4 separate regions of the Homo sapiens genome follow, and regions 1, 2 and 3 are each reported to be linked to region 4. Evidence: microRNA targets listed by miRTarBase, many of them from high-throughput screens and not tested one by one. Region 4 holds a microRNA gene; each other region holds the end of a gene's coding sequence.
What was found. The annotated mature microRNA hsa-miR-4524a-3p reads UGAGACAGGCUUAUGCUGCUAU and lies in region 4 at 3,225-3,246, opposite strand. An mRNA with a match to its seed (bases 2 to 7 or 8) in the 3' UTR can be bound and repressed. Matches are read on the target gene's strand: a 7mer-m8 pairs with bases 2 to 8, a 7mer-A1 pairs with bases 2 to 7 and ends in A, and an 8mer does both.

Region 1: the mRNA of PCYOX1 is a reported target of hsa-miR-4524a-3p. Seed matches in the 3' UTR shown: 8mer at 2,009-2,016 and 7mer-A1 at 1,714-1,720.
Region 2: miRTarBase lists SEC14L5 as a target of hsa-miR-4524a-3p. Seed matches in the 3' UTR shown: 7mer-m8 at 608-614 and 8mer at 448-455.
Region 3: miRTarBase lists FRMD8 as a target of hsa-miR-4524a-3p. Seed matches in the 3' UTR shown: 8mer at 2,943-2,950.

Annotation. Positions count from the first base shown.
Region 1 is chr2:70,276,720-70,281,791 of GRCh38, reverse strand. It overlaps PCYOX1 (prenylcysteine oxidase 1), which reads right to left. Exons shown (of 6, transcript NM_016297.4): 6 at 607-5,058. The coding sequence ends at 4,400. It overlaps SNRPG (small nuclear ribonucleoprotein polypeptide G), which reads left to right. Exons shown (of 4, transcript NM_003096.4): 4 at 108-430. The coding sequence ends at 158. Among named protein-coding and RNA genes, the nearest start is that of SNRPG, 14 kb to the left of the region's middle.
Region 2 is chr16:5,014,036-5,019,107 of GRCh38, reverse strand. SEC14L5 (SEC14 like lipid binding 5) reads right to left here. Exons shown (of 16, transcript NM_014692.2): 16 at 1-4,249. The coding sequence ends at 4,138. Among named protein-coding and RNA genes, the nearest start is that of NAGPA-AS1, 17 kb to the left of the region's middle.
Region 3 is chr11:65,410,959-65,416,030 of GRCh38, reverse strand. It overlaps FRMD8 (FERM domain containing 8), which reads right to left. Exons shown (of 11, transcript NM_031904.5): 11 at 2,506-4,789. The coding sequence ends at 4,671. Among named protein-coding and RNA genes, the nearest start is that of NEAT1, 9.3 kb to the left of the region's middle.
Region 4 is chr17:69,096,346-69,101,418 of GRCh38, forward strand. MIR4524A (microRNA 4524a) reads right to left here and starts at 3,287; the gene lies at 3,219-3,287. ABCA6 (ATP binding cassette subfamily A member 6) reads right to left here. Exons shown (of 39, transcript NM_080284.3): 22 at 4,452-4,589; 23 at 1,575-1,682; 24 at 283-456; 25 at 1-8. MIR4524B (microRNA 4524b) reads left to right here and starts at 3,197; the gene lies at 3,197-3,311.

The DNA of each region.
Region 1 (5,072 bases), not on the chromosome of region 4:
CATGTAATATTAAAAAACCATTAATGATTTGGTGAAAATTCTTAAATCATCATAGTTATGTCTGTTACCTGAGTTGTTCTTTTCAAATTTATTTTTCTCTTTCTTAGGTAATACGAGGAAATAGTATCATCATGTTAGAAGCCTTGGAACGAGTATAAATAATGGCTGTTCAGCAGAGAAACCCATGTCCTCTCTCCATAGGGCCTGTTTTACTATGATGTAAAAATTAGGTCATGTACATTTTCATATTAGACTTTTTGTTAAATAAACTTTTGTAATAGTCAAAAATGCTTTCTCAGATGTTCTGAATATAGAATATCAGCTCTCATTCCAGTTTTTTCTAACATGAATTTTCCTGGTTGACATTGATTTCAAAGGGTTTTATGCATTAAAGTGAAAGAATCTTATTAAATGTGAAACATGGCAAGGATTCCTTCTGTCCATCATCTTTCAACACTGAACAGATAAAGAAGTTACAAACATGAGTGAGTTTCTTCTAAAACACTAATTTTCAAAACTTGTAAGAATAGTAACTTTGATCTAGCCTGACTTTCCCAAGTACATCTACATTCCAAATATAGTACAACAGAAGCAAAAGACAAGAAGTAATGATGTAGTTGTTTATTTTGAATATAATCATGAAGTGGGGAAAAATTTTAATACAAGAGTAGAAAGAGGATTCCAGAGAAAAACATTCCAGTGTATCATGGTTCTTTGTGAGTGAGTAGAGAGGGGTAGTGAGGATGCTGTCCACAATGTATTCATCTAGTTAATGAATTGTATGGCCCACAAGCTCAAACGAGAGATACATTACAGATGGTTGTATTATAAACCTAATCTTAAGAAACCTTACCAAGCAAATGCTTAAAGACTGATTTTTTTGTGATCTGATAAAAAGCCTGCAAATCGTGAATCACTTTTAAACTGTACAGAATGGACTACACACCAGTATGGTAAAGTTCTTGTAAAACACCAAACACAATGGCTCATAGATATATACCTCTCTCACTCTTAAATGGCATTTCCTAATTATAGAAAATGTTTACAACAAAAGAACAAGAGGGATCAAACTAACAATCAATAAGGAGAACTGATGTGAAGTCCCATACACTGTTACTCCATTTTTCAGCAACTCTTTATAACTCCTTCATTGACTTGACTCCTTTACAACATACAGCTGAATTGTAGAACTAGTTCTTCAAGTGTGGTTCCTATAGTAGAACAGCAGCATCACTGGGGAACTTAATAAAATGCATCTTCTTATATCCCATAACAAACTTATTGAATAAACAGGGTGGAGCCTAGCGATGTTTTAACAAGCCCTTAAGGTAACTGATGCATGCTCAACTCAGAGAGCCACTGGAGCAGAGCTGGCTTTCATTCAGCCCCTGCATCATTTTTACCAGTCTCTTCTATTAAAAAAAAAGGTCTGGAGCAGTAAGCTCTGACAGTGTTTTTTCTTCCAATAAAACTCTTAATACTATAGTTGCATAAAACTACCTAATGCGCCCAGAGTAGCAGGTTCTGCTAGGATTTTTCTCCCAGTAAAAAAGCACTCAACACTGTAGTTGCATTAAAACTACTTGATGTCCTTGGTGTATTGATAACCTGTTTTGCTTTTGCCAAAGCAATTTCAGATGCCCTACTGGAAAATTTATCCAGAGTAGGTTTGATGTAATACCAGCAACATTTTTAATTTTTTTTTTTTCCTTTTGAGACACAGTCTCACTCTTGCCCAGGCTGGAGTGCAGTGGTGCGATCTCTGCTCACTGCAACCTCCATCTCCAGGGTTCAAGCGATTCTCGCGCCTCAGCCTCCCAAGTAGCTGGGATTACTGGCACACGCCACCATGCCTGGCTAATTTTTGTATTTTTAGTAAAGACAGGGTTTCACCATGTTGGCCAGGCTGGTCTCAAACTCCCGACCTCAAGAGATCCACCTGCCTCAGCCTCCCAAAGTGCTGGTGAGCCACCATACCCAGCCTAAACTGGTTTTTGTTTTTTTTTTCTGAGACAGAGTCTCGCTCTGTTGCCAGGCTGGAGTGCAGTGGTGCGATCTTGGCTCACTGCAACCTCCGCCTCCCGGTTGAGGCAATTCTCCTGCCTCAGCCTCCCAAGTAGCTGAGATTACAGTAGCTGGGATTACAGACATGCGCCACCATGTCCAGCCAATTTTTGTGTATTCAGTAGAGATGGGGTTTCACCATGTTGGCCAGGATGGTCTTGATCTCCTGACCTCGTGATCCGTTTGCCTTGGCCTCCCAAAGTGCTGGGATTACAGGCGTGAGCCACTGCGCCCAGCCTAAATTGGTATTATAAGTAAAAATATATCCCATTGCAAAACAAGTCTACAAATGATGGAAATTAATTAGTATTTACCAACATTTAGCATATACATAACAGTATTACTTTACAAATTGTCTTCATTAAAACCACAAAAGGAAACAAATATGAATACCTCAACATATCTGTTAAGAATAAAACTAGAAAAAAACACTCTTTTGACAAACCATGAGTTTAATCCCCTACCTATCAAATATATCTTGGCAGTTTTATCAGCATATTAACATTCACAACTGTGGTAGGGAAGAAGTCATTTTTACTCAGAACCAAAGTTTACACTATTTTGCTAAAGTAGCTAATGCCATGATCTGATGAAGGACTTTGAAGTTTCTATTCAATGGAAGGATTTTTTTTTTTTAAGATGGTCTCTGTTGCCCAGGCTGGAGTACAGTGGCATGATCATGATTCACTGCAGCCTTGACCTCCAAGGCTCAAGTGATCCTCCCACCTCAGCCTCCCGAGCAGCTGGGACCACAGGCGCGCATTACCATGCCTGGCCAACTTTTTAAAAATTTTTTGTAGAGATGGGGTTTCACCATGTTGCCCAGGCTGGTCTAGGCCTTTGTAATTTTTTAATAACACTACATGTTAAATTGGTTGCATTTACTTTTGAACTCTTAATCTTTTGCTTGTTCTGTTCTACCAGTGTCTTGACAGTTAATCATGATCTTTGCACAGTAGATGCAGAACTAGTTCTGAAGTTTTGCTGCCTGTTAATTACCATTTGGATGCTTTAAAACCCTACAGGTGATTCCAATGTGCAGCCAAGGTTGAGACCACTGTCTTAAGATTTCAGCAACCAATTTCTCACCCAGAATGCTACAGTAAATGAAACACTTAACTCTTTGGACATATGCTGGACTTGGTTAACTTTGGTGTCATTCCAAGTATTCTGTTCTAGTGCCAACTGCTCAGGAGTTATTTAAGTTGCCTCTGCTGTTAGGCTGTCTGTGCTTATTATCAAGATTACTTCTAAAGTTCTTACTAAGAGAACTGAGAAAGTTCTAAAAGAAAGATCCTTGCAAAATGGATCTGCTTTGATACAGATTGGGCTTCTTAGGACTTCTAAGGCACTAAAACCCTTTGTAGGCATTTTCACACCCACATTGGTGATTCCCAACCCTGGGTGCACATTAGAAACTTTAAATAGCTACAATGCTAAGGTCCTATCCTCAGTCTTTGAATCTGAATCTCTGGTTATGGGGGGGTCTCAGTATTTTTAAAAGCTCCTGAAGTGAGGATTTAATACTAGAATGCCAGTTTCTTAATTCAGTAGCCCATATTTGCTTTTCATTTTACTTGAGATTTTTGTTTAACATCTTCAAGTTACATTACTAAGACTTCTAAATTTCACCCCTAATCAAATCAAGACAGAAGAATCAAAAGACAACATTCTGAAAGTCAAGGCTTTAGGCATGGGCACACGTACTTCAAACCGGTATGAAATTACTAAGAGTCAGGCATAAGACACCAGCTCCCATAAATTTTATCTGACTGAAGATTATATCTAGCTGTAAAATTCAAAAGGACTACTCCCCAACTAAGATGTCTTTAAGTTCTCCCTCAGGTACTCACCTTAAAATGCTCTACAATTTTGATCAAAATCCAGCGCGCCACTCCCAGACCTACTGAATCAGAATCTTCAAGAGAGGAGCTTGAGAATCCATATGGTTTAACAAACTCCAGGTGATTATTTTTATTTACTTTTGAGACGGAGTTTTGCTCGTGTTGCTCAGGCTGAAGTGCAATGGTGAGATTGGCTCACTGCAACCACCACCTCCTAACTCCAGGTGATTCTTATTATCAGACAAGTTTAAGAAAAACTCCTAATGGATAGTGAAAGAATACTTAAGAAATTTTGGAGATGGCATAAGTGCAATAGCTATACCTTCACACTTAATTAGAACCGTGTGTTTTCCTATGACCAGCAGGGATTACTTTTATTAAACAATGATAATGGCAAAATATCTGGTTCAAAATCATCTCTGCTCAGATTTTGTTCTTTTTTGCCACTGATAGTCATTTGGAACTAGGAGGGGAAAAAGGAGTGTGTCACTTCATAGTTCAGTTTTAAGTTTCTCATATAAGCCATCCTGATCAATCATGTCTGTGTGCCCGTTCCAGCGGTGATAGGCAAGGAGTGCAGCGTTGTGGGCTGCAATGGCACTCATCTCCATGGCACTTGCTGCACACTCTATGCCATTGAGGTAATAAAGTCGATCATGGAGAATGATAGAGGGGCATTTCTCCGGGGGCTTATAGTGAGGATATGCAAGCCATGGCTTCTTCACAGCATAATCATAGGACAGAAAGAGCTTTAAAATTTGTGCTTTAGTAAGAGTTTCTTGGGAAAAGATCTTCCAAACATATGTTCCATCTGTTGATGGCTCAGGATCTTCCTTTTCTCTCACAGAGGGCACAATCCCAATACTGTTAATGAACAAATCTGAATTATCAGTGGTTAAAACTGTATTAAGGCCAAATTTATCTATGGGTCTAGAGCTAAAGATAGATGTATTCAATTCCCCCTTAACTAAAGTTGTCACTATATGTTGATAATATTGATGGAATTCCTCAATTGGAGGATCAAAGTTGAGAAAAGTAATATTCGACATTTTTCGATTCAACGGAGTGGCCACCAAGACGATGTCATAGAAGTCTGAACGAGTCTCAGTTCCAATTTGGTAGACCACTTCATACATCTTTGTTGGATTTCCTAGAGGAAATAAG
Region 2 (5,072 bases), not on the chromosome of region 4:
GTCCGGGGCCGCGTGCAGCCTGCAGGCCACAGGCTGAACAAGCTAGCTCTAAAGTCTTTTAAACAACAGCTGGAAAGTTCTTGAACGAGCCCACGGGAAACCTCCAGGGTTTTAGGAAGCTGACGATGCAAGTTTATCCAAATGGAAAACATTTAATGCTGCTGGTTGGAGCAAGTGATCAGGCAAACAAAAAAACCCATCGTGTTTCACTGGCTCAAAGAGACTTTGTTGAAAACAATTATACTATTCTCATTGGACAATAAATTTTACAGCAGGGAGGGGGAATTCCAGAGAGTGCAGGGTAGAAAAAAAGAGTCTCAAACTCTCCATACTTCAACCTCTGGGAAAAAACATTTTCTAACTGCCAAGGGAAATACCACTCAGAATACACTCCCTCAGATGGGTGGACTTACCCAGAAAACACAAGCAGCTTCTTTCTTCTTTTTTTGAGACAGGGTCTTGCTTTGTCACCCAGGATGAAGTACAGGGGTGAGATCATGGCTCACTCCAGCCTTGACCTCCAAGCAATCCTTCTGCCTCAGCCTCCCGAGCAGCTGAGACTATAGGCACGCACCACCACGCCTGGCTCATTTTTTAATTTTTTGTAGAGACAGGGTCTCACTATGTTGCCCAGGCTGGTCTTGAACTCCTGCACTCAAGCGATCAGCCGGCCTCAGCCTCCCAAAGTGTTGGGATTATAGGCATGAGCCACCACGCCCCGCCCACACAAGCAGTTTCTAAAAGAGAAAGACTGCACACCCAACTCAGAGGGCAATAATTCTTGACACCTACTTTTCTCTGGGTGCAATAACGAAAAACAGGGATAGGCGACCTCAGGAAGAAAACGAGTCTTTGGATGCGAAGCATTAAGTAATCAGAATGACCACTGACATTAATGGAGCGCTTTCTGTGTTCTGGGAGCTGTGCTGAAAGCTTTACAGCTACTCCCTCATTTCGTCCCACTACAACCTATTGAGGTAGGCACTGCTATCCTCACTTTACAGATGAGGAAACTGAGGCACAGAGAGGTTAAGTCACCTGGTCAAGGTTACACAGCTAGTGAAAGGAAGGCTGGGGTTTGAGTCCTGGCCTAAATTCAAGGCCCAGGTGCCCAAACACCAACAGTAATGCTGCTTGTGGGTTGCTTCTGTCCTGGTCACAATGGATTAATGAACTAATGATGCAAGAAGCCCAAGCCAAGGCACTTCCAGCCTTTGTGGCTCAGGGGAAATTCAAAAGCCAAAAGCTTGGCAATCCCTTCCTTGGATTATTTTTAATTCCAGTCCTCCCGAAGGCAAGAAGAATGACCTTGATAATGCTTCCACGTGGGTCCCCGAGACCTCCACATGGGAGGAGAGCCGGCCGTAGCAGATGCCACCATGGATACCTGCTGGTTCTGTGGTCCAGCTTCTCTTGTCCATTGGGGGAATGGCCCTCCCCAATCCTGCTGCGGCTTCTGCAGGGAATGTCAATCACGGGACCCTAGTTCCTTGCCAGTGTGGCCCACAGGAATAAGCATGTGACTCGAGCTGGGCCAATCAGAGCCTTCCATGAGATTTGAGATGGAAAAGCATCTCTTAGAGTGTGAATCCTGAAATTATAGGCTTGGGGCTGCTGGCAGCCATCTTTCCCGCCAGGTGGAAGAAAGAATGAGGTCAGCATGCAAAGAGATGCAGAGTCAAGAGGCCTGGGTGCAGTTGAGAGGCCTGAGGACATTAAGCTCCTGGATCCAGCCATATCTGAAGCAGCACCCACCTTCAGCCATCCCTAGTACAGGACCCAGGGAATTTGCTTTGTTGCTTAAGCCAGTTTGGGCTGGTTTTCCCTAGGGAGAGAGCACTCTCAAGAGCAGAACTGAAAGGGCCTGAGGTTCCTCACCCCCACTGTTAAGGGTGGACAGCTGATAGCAGACTCCCCTCCCCCCACCCGCCTCTGGAACAGGCAGTTCCAGCTTCCTTCCGTAAAAGGCTTCTGTGTCCTTCTCTGGGGCTAGACAATAAATGTATAAAGACTGCCAGGGCAGCTTATCCCAGCATACTTGTAGGATAACACCTAGTTTTTAAGAGAAAAGCTAGAAATTCACTTAAAGATAGTTGAAAATATTGCAAGTTGCTCTCAGCAATAAATGCCTGGTGATATGGGAGCAATTAGTTTTGAGAACGTCTCCTTCCAATCAGTCGGTCTCTTATGCACACATGTGCACACACACCTTGACGCAGAGTGCAAAGCAATCTATTTTGTTCAGATACCTGAGAAGCGGACAGAGAGCCAACAGGAAGGTGGGCAAGGCTCTCTCCCAGCAGGAAGAAGGATGTATCTGAAAAGATGACACTTTCTCTCTTCCTTGGGTTTGGGGTTGAGGCTGGCGTAGATATAAGTTTCCTGGCCCTGCATTGCTGAGCCTGCATAAAGATGATTCTTGTGGCCACAAAACCACCCCTTGGCTCAGTTACTGCAGCAGAGATGAGCCCCAACTCTAAGCAAGGCCAGGAGACAAGGGTACCAGCCACTGCTGACAGAGCCATGTCAGTGAGACTCCTGCCACGCAGGTCATGAGGATGTGTAATGTGGGCTGGGCGCAAGTCAATGGGGTAGGGACTGGCGTGGCCACATCCAGGGGTGCAGAGGTGTTGTCTTCATGCAACAATAGTGACCCCATTCTGCTGGTGCTCCCAAATGCCTAAGGGAAGCCAGAAATCCTGATTTCGATGCGAAATGCCTCAATTTTTAAACCATTCTAAAGGCAAAAAAGCAACACTAAAAGCAGGCCAGATCAGGCTTCAAGTTGGTGACCCCTGACTGGCTGCCTTTTGGGGAGTCCAGGAAAGGAAAGGAGAAATGTCCTCAGGCCCCAAGGAGACCCAAGACGCTCCTGTGTAGTAACTAGGGGAACTCATGTCAATATTGAACCTAGTTCCAGAGTCATATCTGCCCCAGGGCAAACACAGCAGCCTCCACTCGCGGGGGGAATCGAGACTCCATGTTGAGACCCTGGATCTAGCCTTACCTGAAGCAAGCCCTCCTGGACTGGCCAGTTCTATGCACCCATGAATGATCATGCTTTTGTGTTGAAGCACCTGGGCATGGGTCTCTGTGGCTTACAACCAAAAACAGTCATAATTAAACAGTTCCCTAGGAGAGAAAGGCATCTCCAGTGGGGTATACAGACAGCCTCAGTCACCCCATCACTGCCTGGAACTTAGCAGAAACCCAGGGCTCTCCCACCCTCTCCAATCAGGGATGGTCAGGCTTAGGCCATGCTGGCCAAGTGCAGGGAACATGGATTTTCACTTCAGGATGTGCTGTTCCCCACAAAGAGCAGCGCCTGTAACTCACTTAACTGCTCACCAAGCACATCTTGATACTGCATAACAGAACGTTATGCAATCAGATGCCAAGGTAAACACCCTTCATTTCTGCCTCCCCAGCATCCTTCCTCCTTCTTCTTAGGGGGGACCCCAGTACTCCTCGAGGCACCCACTAGTGCTTTTGAGAGCAGGTGGTTGGTTCCAGAGATGTGCATGTGATCCAGGCTGGCCAATCACTGCACCTCACTGCAACCCTGGATCACGGTGATTGGTCCAGATTGGGCATGACCCTGCTGGCCAATCAGCATTCTCCAGTGTGCCTGGCAACTGTGATTGGTTCAGGAATTGACCTGGCAATCGCTCCCCCTTCCAGGCTAAGACTCAGCTCTGGGAAGTGGGCTGGAGCCTTTGGGAGGAAGAGGCTCTCTTATGCAGGCAAGCTGCAGGGAGGAGAAGGGCACCTGATAGTGATGGTCCCCTGCATGGCGAAAGCAGAGCAAGAGGTGGACAGAGAGGAGATGGGCCTGGCTGACGTCGCTAAGCCCGGATGTCCCAAAGGTGTGGTATGGTAGACACCTTGGCCTTGGCTTGGTCTTCCTTACACGAAGCCGGAAGGAGATGGTTCTGTCCTTGCAATTTCAAGAGCCCTGACACCACCCACAGGCCAGTTCTGGATCCTTGCCATCCGCTCCAGACACCCCAACTTGGGCAGCATCTAGGCCTGGGGCTCCAGCCCACATGGTCCCAGGCCCTGCAGTTAGCTGGCTTCTCATTCTGGACATTTCTGGACACTGGAGGCGAGCGGGCGGCCCTGAAACACTGGGCCCGGCTATCTGGAGACCAGGGAGCTGCTATGAGACTGGCCGGAGGAGGAGGACGAGGTGGCGGCGCTGAGCTGGGAGAAGCCGCTGGTGCAGGATTCCAGGCTGGACATGGAGCCCCTGGGGAGGAAGGGCGTGGCACACGTTACCCTCTCACAGTGACAAGGCCCTTGGGCTGACACACAGCAGTGGAAAAGCTGTTGATGCTGCAAATCAGGCCCCAGGGCCCCAGGCCGATGCAAAGGGAAAAGCAAGTGACGCCATGAAGAGAAAAGCACTACCGAATTCCCCACACTCCCATCTCCCCAGATGGAGCCCAGCCTGCCACAGACCCATCAGGGGCTCCCCTGGCCTGAGGCCCTTGCATGGCCCTAAGGCCGCCACAGCCCAGGGAGTCCCCGGCCCTGTCTCCAGTCTCACTCCCTCCTTACTCTTTGCACTCAAATTCCATGGTCCTCCTCCTAGCTCTTGCAGTGGCCTTCGTGTGCGCTGAGCCTGAGGCAGAAGCCCATTCTCTCCTCCCCCAGCTGTCTGGTTAACTCCTACTCCAAACCTCAGGGCAGCGCCATCCTCGAGAACTTTCTTTTCTTGTATAGAGACGGGGCTCTCACTATGCTGCCCAGGCTGGTCTCAAACTCCTGGGATCAGGAGATCCTCGTGACTCGGCCTCCCAAAGCACTTGGATTACAGGCGTGAGGCACCATGCCCACCCTCCAAGAACTTCCTGCGATGAACGTGCTGTACACCTGCACAGTCCAACACACCAGCCACTGGCCACATGGGCTGCTCATCACTTGAAATGTGGCCCATGCGACTGAGGCACTGAATTGTTCCTTTTATTTCATTCTCCTTGCTAAGTTAAATTGCTGCAGGTGACTAGCAGCGACCAGATAGGACAGTGCAGCTTTAGGGCCTTGCTACTCAAAGCATGGTCTGGGAACTG
Region 3 (5,072 bases), not on the chromosome of region 4:
GTGGCCTGCACATCTGTTGGGGCATCATGTGTGTGCAAAGTGACCCATTTTCCTGGTCTTTATGTTCTTATCCCCGGTGTCATCTGAAAAGCTGCCTGGACTCTGAGCTGATGTCTCCATGGGTAACTCTGTTGCTAATCCTGCAACCCTGTGTGCGGGGAGCAGTTGGAACTCCTGCTCCCTGACAAGTGTCAGAGGCCCCTGGCACATCCACCCCAGCCCTCTCCTTCCCAGCTTTATCTGTGCCCCTTGCACCACTGTTTTTTCAGACTGAGCATGACAGCGTCCTGGGTCGCCTTGGTCGCTGTGGCTTTTCTGAGTCCCAGCAGCACCTCTGGCCTCCCGTGTGTCTCTCCATGCACTGCCACTTGGCTGGGGGCTGGCCACATGAAGCCTCAGCTGTGGGTCTGCGCAAGCCTCTTGCTGGGCTCTGGTTGTGGCTGGAGCCTCCTGTGTCCAGCTAGCCCCGGGTTGGGAAGCCCGCAGGAATGCCCCAGCTGCTGCTGTAAGTGGAGAATGACCTGGAAACCCCAGCCTCAGAAGGGACAGTAGGATCGCATGTGTTGACTGTTCTGGTCACCTCTGCTTCCTGCATTCTGAAGAGTTAGGGAGAGTCTGGGGACTGGGGACTGTGAAGACCTCGTCCCACTGCACTGTCCTCAGGGGCAGTCTGGGCAGAGCCTCTTCAGGTCTTCAGGCCTCTGGATCCAGGTGCTGGCTGAGCCAGGCTGTGCGTGCCAGGCTGGCAGGTGGCAAAGTCACTCCTGCTGCCCCGTGCAACCCAAGCGTAGCTAGGATTTGAAAATAACAGCTGTTCCGGCATTAAAGAACCCCAAAGAAGTCCAAGACAATCATCTGTAGGGTAGTGGTAAGGGTTAAATCGTGTTCCCCCAAAAGGATATGTCGAAGTCCTAACCCTCAGTGCATCAGAATGTGACATGATGTGGGAACAGGATCATTGCAGGTGTTATTAGTTAAGATGAGCTCATGGTGGAGTAGGGTGGGCCCCTAGTCTAATCTGACTGGTGTCTTTGTAAGAACACAGCCATGTGAAGACACAGACACTAAGGAAGATGCCAGATGACCACATAGGCAGAGACTGGCTGTGCAGCCGCAAGCCAATGAATGCCTGAACGGCCAGCAAGGCACCAGAAGCTAGGAGCAGGCAAGGAAGGCCTCTCCTATGGGTTGCAGAGGGAGCACGGCCCTGCTGAGCTGAAACCTGGATTTTGGACTTGTAGCCCCCAGAACTGTGAGACAATCAGTTTACTTTTTTTTTTTTTTTGAGACAGAGTTTTGCTCTGTCACCCAGGCTGGAGTGCAATGGCACGATCTCGGCTCACTGCAACCTCCGCCTCCCGGGTTCAAGCGATTCTCCTGCCTCAGCCTCCCCAGTAGCTGGGATTACACGCATGCGCCACCATGCCTAGCTAATATTGTATTTTTAGTAGAGACAGGGCTTCTCCACGTTGGTCAGGCTGGTCTCAAACTCCCGACCTCAGGTTATCCGCCCGCCTTGGCCTCCCAAAGTGCTGGGTTTACAGGCGTGAGCCACTGCACCTGGCCGAAGTGAGTTGTTTTTTCGGAATTTTTTTTTTTTTTTCGAGACAGGGTCTTGCTCTGTTGCCCAGGCTGGAGTGCACAGTGGTGTGAACACAGCTCGCTGTATCCTCGACCTCCTGGGCCCAGGCGATCCTCTAGTCTCAGCTTCCCAAGCAGCTGGGCACGACAGGCTTGTGCCACCATGCCTGGCTAATTTTTTTTGTTTTTGTAGCAATGGGGTTTCGCCATGTTGCCCAGGCTAGGCTCAAGTGACCCTCCCGCCTTGGCCTCCCAAAGTGCTGGGATTACAGTAGCAAGCCACTGTGCCTGGCCTGGGCACTGTTATTCCCACGAAAGGTCACAGGTGCCCATGGTCATGGCATTGTGCTGCCTTGCCAGGCAAAGATGATCACACAGAGGACAAGGTGCCACTCACTGTCATGGACACCCAAGGAGACGGCCCTGTTCCCAGGACTACGCTGCCACAGGGACAGGTGGCTTACTCCTCCCATCTCTGGAAACATTGTGAACCCCAATCCCCCAGTGGCGCTCATCCTGCAGGCCCAGGTCCTGGGTGGCTGCTGCAGGGCTCAGAGTCCTCCAGGGGTCTGCTACTGTCCCTTCCCTCCCAGGTAGGTGTTGACAGCAGGATCTGTGGGAAACAAACGGCCTCCTGCCAGGCCTGGAGCATGAGGTGCCCTCAGGAAGGGCATGAGCATCTGCAGTTACCCACCTTGGTCCCCACAGGAACCCCAGAGCCCCTCCTGGGCAACGTGGGGCTGGGAGTACAAGCCGCCAAGATGAGACAGCTTCACTCGGGTGCTCCGTGGGCATCAACCTGGCTGGCCTGAGGGCTGCACACCTTGACGTACGTTTCATGAAAACCAAACATGCAGCCTGTAATCAACTCTTGGACTGTCACGGACACACCCTCATTATTTCATATCATGAGCTGCCCCAGAGTTTGTTAGAAACTGATTTTAATAAGTCACATGATACAAAAGAATGAGAACATTCAAAGAATGAGTAAAATACTGCTTTGTCCCAAAGGACAAGCAGAAAATGTTAAGGCACAATGGATGCTCAGAAAACGTAAGAAGCTGAAGGGAAAACACATCATCTGTGTACTCAGACACACACACTCCAACCCATCACACGAACACACCCTCGCCCGCCCATCAGAGAAGAATTCGCCTGGAATCAGCTGGGGGCGGTGGCTCACGCCTATAATCCCAGCACTTTGGGAGGTTGAGGCGGGCAGATCATGAGGTCAGGAGTTCACGACCAGCCTGACCAACATGGTGAAACCCTATCTCTACTAAAAATACAAAAATCAGCGGGGCCTGGTGGCATGCACCTGTAATCCCAGCTACTCAGGAGGCTGAGGCAGGAGAATCGCTTGAGACAGAGGTTGCAGTGAGCCGAGATGCGCCACTGCACTCCTGCCTGGGCAACAGAGCAAGACTCCGTCTCAAAAAAAATAAAAAAATAAAAAAAATAAAATCACCTGGAATCAAAGCAGCAGGGACAGCCTGCGCTGGAGCCGCCAGAACAGGCAGGCGGGCAGCTCCGCAAGACCGAGCAACTCCAGGACGGGAGACGAGAACTGGCAGCTGACATGACCCTGTGACCAGGACATTCCAAAAGACTGGGGGCCCTTCCCAGGCCTCTTCTTTCCGCCTATTATTTTAACAAAGTCCATGCTGCCAGAAGGCAAGCCTACCTCGAAACACCTGGCACATTCACAAGCTACCAAAGGGAGGAGGGTGAACAGGCTCTGATACTTGGAGTAGAGGCCCAAGCTTCCTCTCCCACGGTTTTCCACCGGGAACGAAGACAAAGCCAAGCCCTGTGCAGCCACAGGAAGTCCCAGGAAGCACCTGTGAGACCCGCACACCCACCTCGGAGGGTCCCAGGGCTGGGAAAGCCCTCCTCTCAGGGGCTCTCAGCTCATCTGGGACAAGACAGAGCCCCTGCTCCCCGGAGGGCAAGCTGGGACCAGAGAAGCCAAGCACCCATATCAGTCACCTTTCCAAGTGTCCTCGATAAAGAAGAGAGTGTCCCGTGTGGCCCAGGCTTTCCTGGGCATGCGCCAGCCCCCAGAGGAATCCATGGCGCCACCTGGGAAGGAGCGCACAGCAGAGGTACCCAGGGCACTTCCTGGCGTTGCCCCAGCACAACTCAGATGAACAAAGACCAAACTAAAACCTGAAGACCCAGACACAGGGAGGGGAGGTCAGGTCCGGTCAGTCCCCTAGGGGAGCTGCTTGGGCTCCAGGGAGTGCCCACCAGGGGATTTTCAGTTTTTCACAGACTGTGAGTGTGGGTCTGGAGGCCAGGTGGTCCACAGGATAGCCACCTCCCAGCAGTGACATCACCAAAGGCTATCAGAAAGGCATGCTCTTTCTGGTATCTCGTGCCTGCAAAGGAGACCAGAACGAGGGGCACAGGACCCCAGGTAGGGCCCTGCCTGGCTCCCTCCATTCCTGATTCAACCAGGGAGGTGTGGTGGGGGCCCTCACCGTGTTTCTGTCCCGGTTCAATCCAGGGAGGCCCCTCCTACCCTCCTCAGAGTGGTGGCCCAGCCTGGTATTGGGGGATGGAGCACCAGCAGGAGGAAGGTGGGAAACTGGTCATCCAAGTCCGGGGGGTGGAGCACTAGCAGGAGGAAGACGGAGACTGGTCACCCAAGTCCAGGGAAGAGGCCAAAGGCACACACTGGAGCTTCAGGTCCCAAACCTCAATCCTTGGTCCTCTACCACTGGAGCTGCCACTGGGCACTTCAGAACAGGGACACTGCCCATCTTGAGGTGGGCACAAAGGCATGTTTCTAGGTGAGGGTGGCAGCTGCAGCTTGATCGGATGGTCCTGAGAGAGCAGCAGGGCCCAGCATCCGGGGGAAGGGAGGGCAGGCTGCAGAGGAGCCCTACAGGAGGCCCTGGCCAGCTTTGCACAGCCCGGGCATGGCCCCGGGCCCAAAAGTCACTTCTCCGTGGTCTGAGAAACCTGCTGAGGCAGCCCTCCCCACGTGGTGACCCATGAGACTGTTGCAGCCGGCGCCTGCCCCTCAGGAGGACAGTGCCGGGCCAGGGCCCCCAGTCGCCCTCCTCCTGCCGGGTGCAGCGTCCTCAGCCCTGCTCCAGGCTGTCGCCGGGCTGCACCACGGTGTAGCTCCCCTGGCCCAAGGACAGCTGCCGGCTGAAGAAGGATGTGGTGCGCTTCGGCTTCACTCGCCTGATCCCCTTGCCTGCGAGGGAATGGGAGGGCACACTGAGCAGAGGCGCTGTCCCTGTGTGAGGGGGCTCAGGCCCAGGAAGCCAGGTTCTGGCTCCAGCGCGACGGCTCCTTCCAGAGCCTGGTCAGACTGAGCTCCCCTCATCCGAGCCTCAGCCCCGCTCAGCATGCTACAGTATACCCCAAGCAGCGCTCCCTAACACTGCCGACCTAAGGTCATCACAGACAAGGAGGGTCCTTCATAGCCAAGAGAAGCCTGGGGAGACGTGACAACTAAATGCAGTGTGGGGTCCTGG
Region 4 (5,073 bases):
ACTATAACCTGAGCATAAAAGAAATAATAACATAGTCAAAAAATCAAATATTACTGAGGGAAAAATTAGATTACAACTTTTAAAAAACAAGTAACCTGGCATAAGTATAAAACATCTTTGGTATCTGAAACTATTAGTATTTATCATACATGCACTTTGCATGTTTTTTGTTTTGGTTTATTACAAAATATGAATTAAAACATCTTAACTACTTAAAATAACAATGTTAAAATTTATTATTAATTACTTTATGAAATTTGGTTTATGTACTGTGTTACTTACCAAAGCAAACACAATTTGGCTTGTAATAAGAAGGTACTGCATGTTTTCTATGTAGAAAATTAAATACATTAAAAGGAGAATTAAAATGAAGAAGCTGACGTCCACTAGTGCCTGCCCACACCAGTAAGCAGAAGTGTAGAGGCCTGAAATCCATAGCTGGGACTTAGCATTTTTCTGATTAAAAAAAAAAAGAAAGAAAGAAATGTATATAGATTCAATTAAAATGCAAATCTAAAATAAACACAAACACATTGGAAGAATTTTTAAGATAAATATAATCTAATCTTCTAATATTAAAAAAAATTATGCATATACTGCTTAGTAACATGAGGCTTATAGAGCCAGTTCCATGGTTTACAAGGTGTCTATCAAAAATAAAATGTATACTGTGATAGGCCTGACTCATAACACAACTTTAGCTCATGAATAATGAAAAGTGGACCTCATAATGTTCAAGGCATTAAACTCTATAAAAATAAGTATTGGCCAGCATGGTGGCTCACGCCTGTAATCCCAGCACTTTGGGAGGCCAAGGCGGGTGGATCACAAGGTCAGGGGATTGAGGCCATCCTGGCTAACATGGTGAAAGCCCATTTTGACTAAAAACACAAAAAGTAGTTGGGCATGGTGGTGCAAGCCTGTAATCCCATCTACTCAGGAGGCTGAGGCAGAAGAACTGCTTGAACCCGGGAGGCGGAGTTTGCAGTGAACCGATTTTGCACCATTGCACTCCAGCCTGGGCAACAGAGTGAGACTCCATCTCAAAAAAAAAAAAAAAAAAGTATTATTTTGTGACCTGGAGGACATAATACATTTACCTTTACCTAAACATCTTGGAGAGTTTCTGGCTCAGGATGGTGAACGTTGATAGATTTAACTGCTTTGTCTGAATAATGGGCATAATCGAATACAAATATAACATAAAATTGCAATTTCCAGAGTGGAAAAGGAATTCAAGTCTTAAATTTGGCCTTTGATTTCAACATCAATGATTTCCTTCTTGTGGCTGGGAAATAATGTGGTCAAAAGATTTATAATATTTCCCTTTGAAGGTTTAGACTAATTGGAGTCTCTGAAAAATCACTGTACTTTTCAGGTGACTTTGGAATAAAAAGCATTTTGAGTTTTTAGAAGTAAATTATCTGACTTGCCAAGAATAAGGTTTAGCTACAATATCTAAATTAAACATACATTCAAATGTTTTTGTCAGAAGAAAACATTTTGAACACATAGCATTCAAAATACAGATATTGAAATTCCTGAAATTTCTTCTTTTCCCTGCTTTTTCTTACCTTGTAATCACTGATGCTGCCCATGGTGATATAAGGAGAAATGCTACATAGAACCAAAAATAAGAAAAAGGAACCATCCGGCAACCCAGTCCAGAGTCCTATGTGGCTCTGAAAATATAAAGGGTAGCTTAAACTAGTGAATATTTGTTAAATGAAACAAATAATTATAGCCACAAAAATGCACTTTTTGAAATGTTGAAAAATCAAAGTAAAGGTGTAGCTCATTACCATCTAGGCACGAAGGTGGGAGGGAAAGTGACTCTGATCTTCAACTCAAAGAACAAAGAGAAGTCAAAAGTCATTTAGGACCTACTTCTGGGGATATTTCCAAAAGAATTGAAAGCAAGCTCTCGAAGAGATACCCTCACATTCATATTCATACCAACAATACTCACAAGTGGAAGCAACCCAAAAGTCCAAATTAATGGATTAACAAAATGTGTATGTATATACAAACAATGGATACTATTCAACCTTAAAAAGGATCACTTGAGGTCAGGAGTCTGAACCAGCCTGACCAACATGGTGAAACCCCATCTCTACTAAAAATACAAAATCAGCCAGGTGTGGTGGTAAATGTCTGTAATCCCAGCAACTTGGGAGGCTGAGGCAGGAGAATCGCTTGAATCTGGGAGGCAGAGGTTGCAGTGAGCAGAGATCGCCCCATTGCACTGCAGCCTGAGCAACAAGAACAAAACTCGGTCTCAAAAAAAAAAAAAAAAAAAAAAGAAGGAAATCCTGTCACATGCTACAACATAGACGAACCTGGAAAATATGCTAAGTGAAATAAACCAGTTACAAAAAGACAAATATTCCACTTATATAAGGTTTCTAAACTAGTAATATTCATAGAAACATAATAGGATGGTTATTTCCAGGGGATGGGGGAGGGGGAAAGCTAATTGGCATCGAGTTTCAATTCCGCAAGACGGCAAAGTTCTGGAGATGCATTTCACAACAATGTGAATATACTTAATACTACTCAACTGTACACTTGCAAACAGCTAAAATGGTCAATTTTATATCATGTATTATTACCACAACAAAAAAACAATAATTCAGAAGTTAGGACCTCTGATGAACATATAATTCAGGCCTGAGTAGCACGTCTTTCTGAGCAAACCCAGAGATGGAAACCTCAGTAGCTGGGTGGATGTGTTCTGAAGCACAGAACCAAGAAGAAAACTTGTTGCTGCTTGTCTTAACTTCAGGGAAAGGAACTTTAAATCACTACCCCCAAATCAGCATCCACTTGAGGCTAGGCCAAGTGGACACTCTAGCAGCATCTAGGACCACCTCATGGATATAATTACAGGATAACAGCATGAGCCTGTCTCAAAATAATTCCACAATTATTTAACTTTATTTAAGACTTTGAGGGCTATGTCTATAAATTCTGTTTTTCATCATAGGAATGAGGGAGGAAAGGTGTGTGCCATGGGGAAGTGGGAGTGGGGAACAGGTTTCTAATAGAGTAGCTATGGGCTTCAGTCCATTTTGATCCTGAGCAAACACAATGGCATTAGGAAGCTAATAATTCAGAAGTTAGGACCTTTGATGAACACATAATTCAGGCCTGAGCAGCATGTCTTTCTGAGCAAACCCAGAGATGGAAACCTCAGTAGCTGGGTGGATGTGTTCTTTTGAAGGATAGCAGCATAAGCCTGTCTCAAAATAATTCTGCAGTGAGACAGGTTCATGCTGCTATCGTTCCAAAGAGGAAGGGTAATCACTGTCTCTTTCTGCTACTCCTCTGGTTCCACTTTCTGGAGAATTCCCTTCAGACACCCCTTCCCTCGAGTCATCCTGTGCAGCAGACCTGTTTACGTGATCAGTCGGTCATACTCAACTCACGGAGGTATGTGTCTGTCACGAACATCTCAAGTACTGTATATTTCATCCCCATTGTTCCCATGGCTTACAGAAAACCTGTGCTTGCATATACTCCCAGCACCACTGATTCAGTGAAGCCAAAACTGAGCTTCACACTTTTGTCACAAAATGGACTTCCCTTTGGATGGCTTCATTTCTAATCCTGCTTCTTGATGTTTCAGACTTCTGGTGTGAAACAGTTGGAGTCAGCTTTGAGACACCCCTGTTGGTATCAGGCAGGGTCTAACCAGAAAACCATGACTACGTTAAGTTCTTAGAGTGCAATTCCTTATGACATGGTTAGGTGGGTGATGAGCATCCCACAAAGATGGTGAAGTGAGAAGCAAGCTATTGTTGCTTCTGGGCTTCAGGAACAGCAGAAGGAGGTGATGTGACTGGAGCCCAATGTAGGGGGTCCTCTGCTCTTCTGTCTCCCACCACTGCTTTCTAGTGTCCAAACTGTCTGAAGCCAGACTATAGCCAACTGACACAGAATCCAATGCAGCCTGTGTGTATTAGGCTCCCTCACAACATAGAGCAACTATGAGTAGGTGAATAAATAAATCAACAGATAGCCCCAGAACTGGCAGATTCTCCTTCATATTAGTCTGTCTACTACACATTTAGTCAATGGAGGGTCCACTAACTAATTATAATAGATTTATATGTAACCAGGGTTACAAGTTCTCCTGATTTCCAAGTCAGTGTTTTCTTTTTTCTGTTTCTCTTTCTCATACACTTCCACAATCAAGTATGTACAACTTTTCAAAACATTGCCTAGAAGACTGACAAAATATTGAAAAGTATTCCCTCACGATAATTATCTGATAACTTGGCAGGAAAAAAAAATCCTGTTTTGTTTGCTATAACCCATTGAAAATATTAGGATAAAATAATAATTTTCAGGCTTAACAATCACTTATGGATATTTAAAAGCTAAAGAGAGAAAACATAGGCTATTTGTCCAATTCTTAATTGTTTAGACTCAGTAAATCCAATACTTACAAGAGGAAATGGGCTTGACTCAATTCGAATATGTTGTGTGTGATTAAACATTTGAAGTAGCCCATTGCTGATAATATTCATAAGAATTGGAAAACAGTGCAATCTCTTGGTATTACACACAACTGAAAATCTATAATCCTTAAAACAGAAACAAATAAATAATGTTAATGCTAAATTCTTAAAGAACAAAGGCAAGGTTTATGTATAAAAGATCCTAACAGTGCCACATGCTTGTTGTGTGTCCATCTTCAAGTGAACTAAACTTTCTGAGCTTTACCTTCCTCATCTATGAAAAGGAAATACTAAATGGGTTGTTATAGGGCTTAAATGACACTCTATTCATGTACATTAAGCTCTAGCACAGAGTCAGCATACAATCAATATGAATTTTTATTTGTATTACTAATTTTAGATAATTTTGTCTCCATTTTGCTGATGGGGAAATTTCATTTAGTAGAGTTTAAAAGTCTCCCTGACAAGGAGATGCTGTCAGTTTATGATGAAGAAGCAAAGGAAGATTGGGCATGGTGGCTCACACCTGTAATTCTAGCACTTTGGGAGGCCAAGGCGGGCAGATCACTTGAGGTTAGGAGTTTGAGACTAGCCTGGCCAACATAGCAAA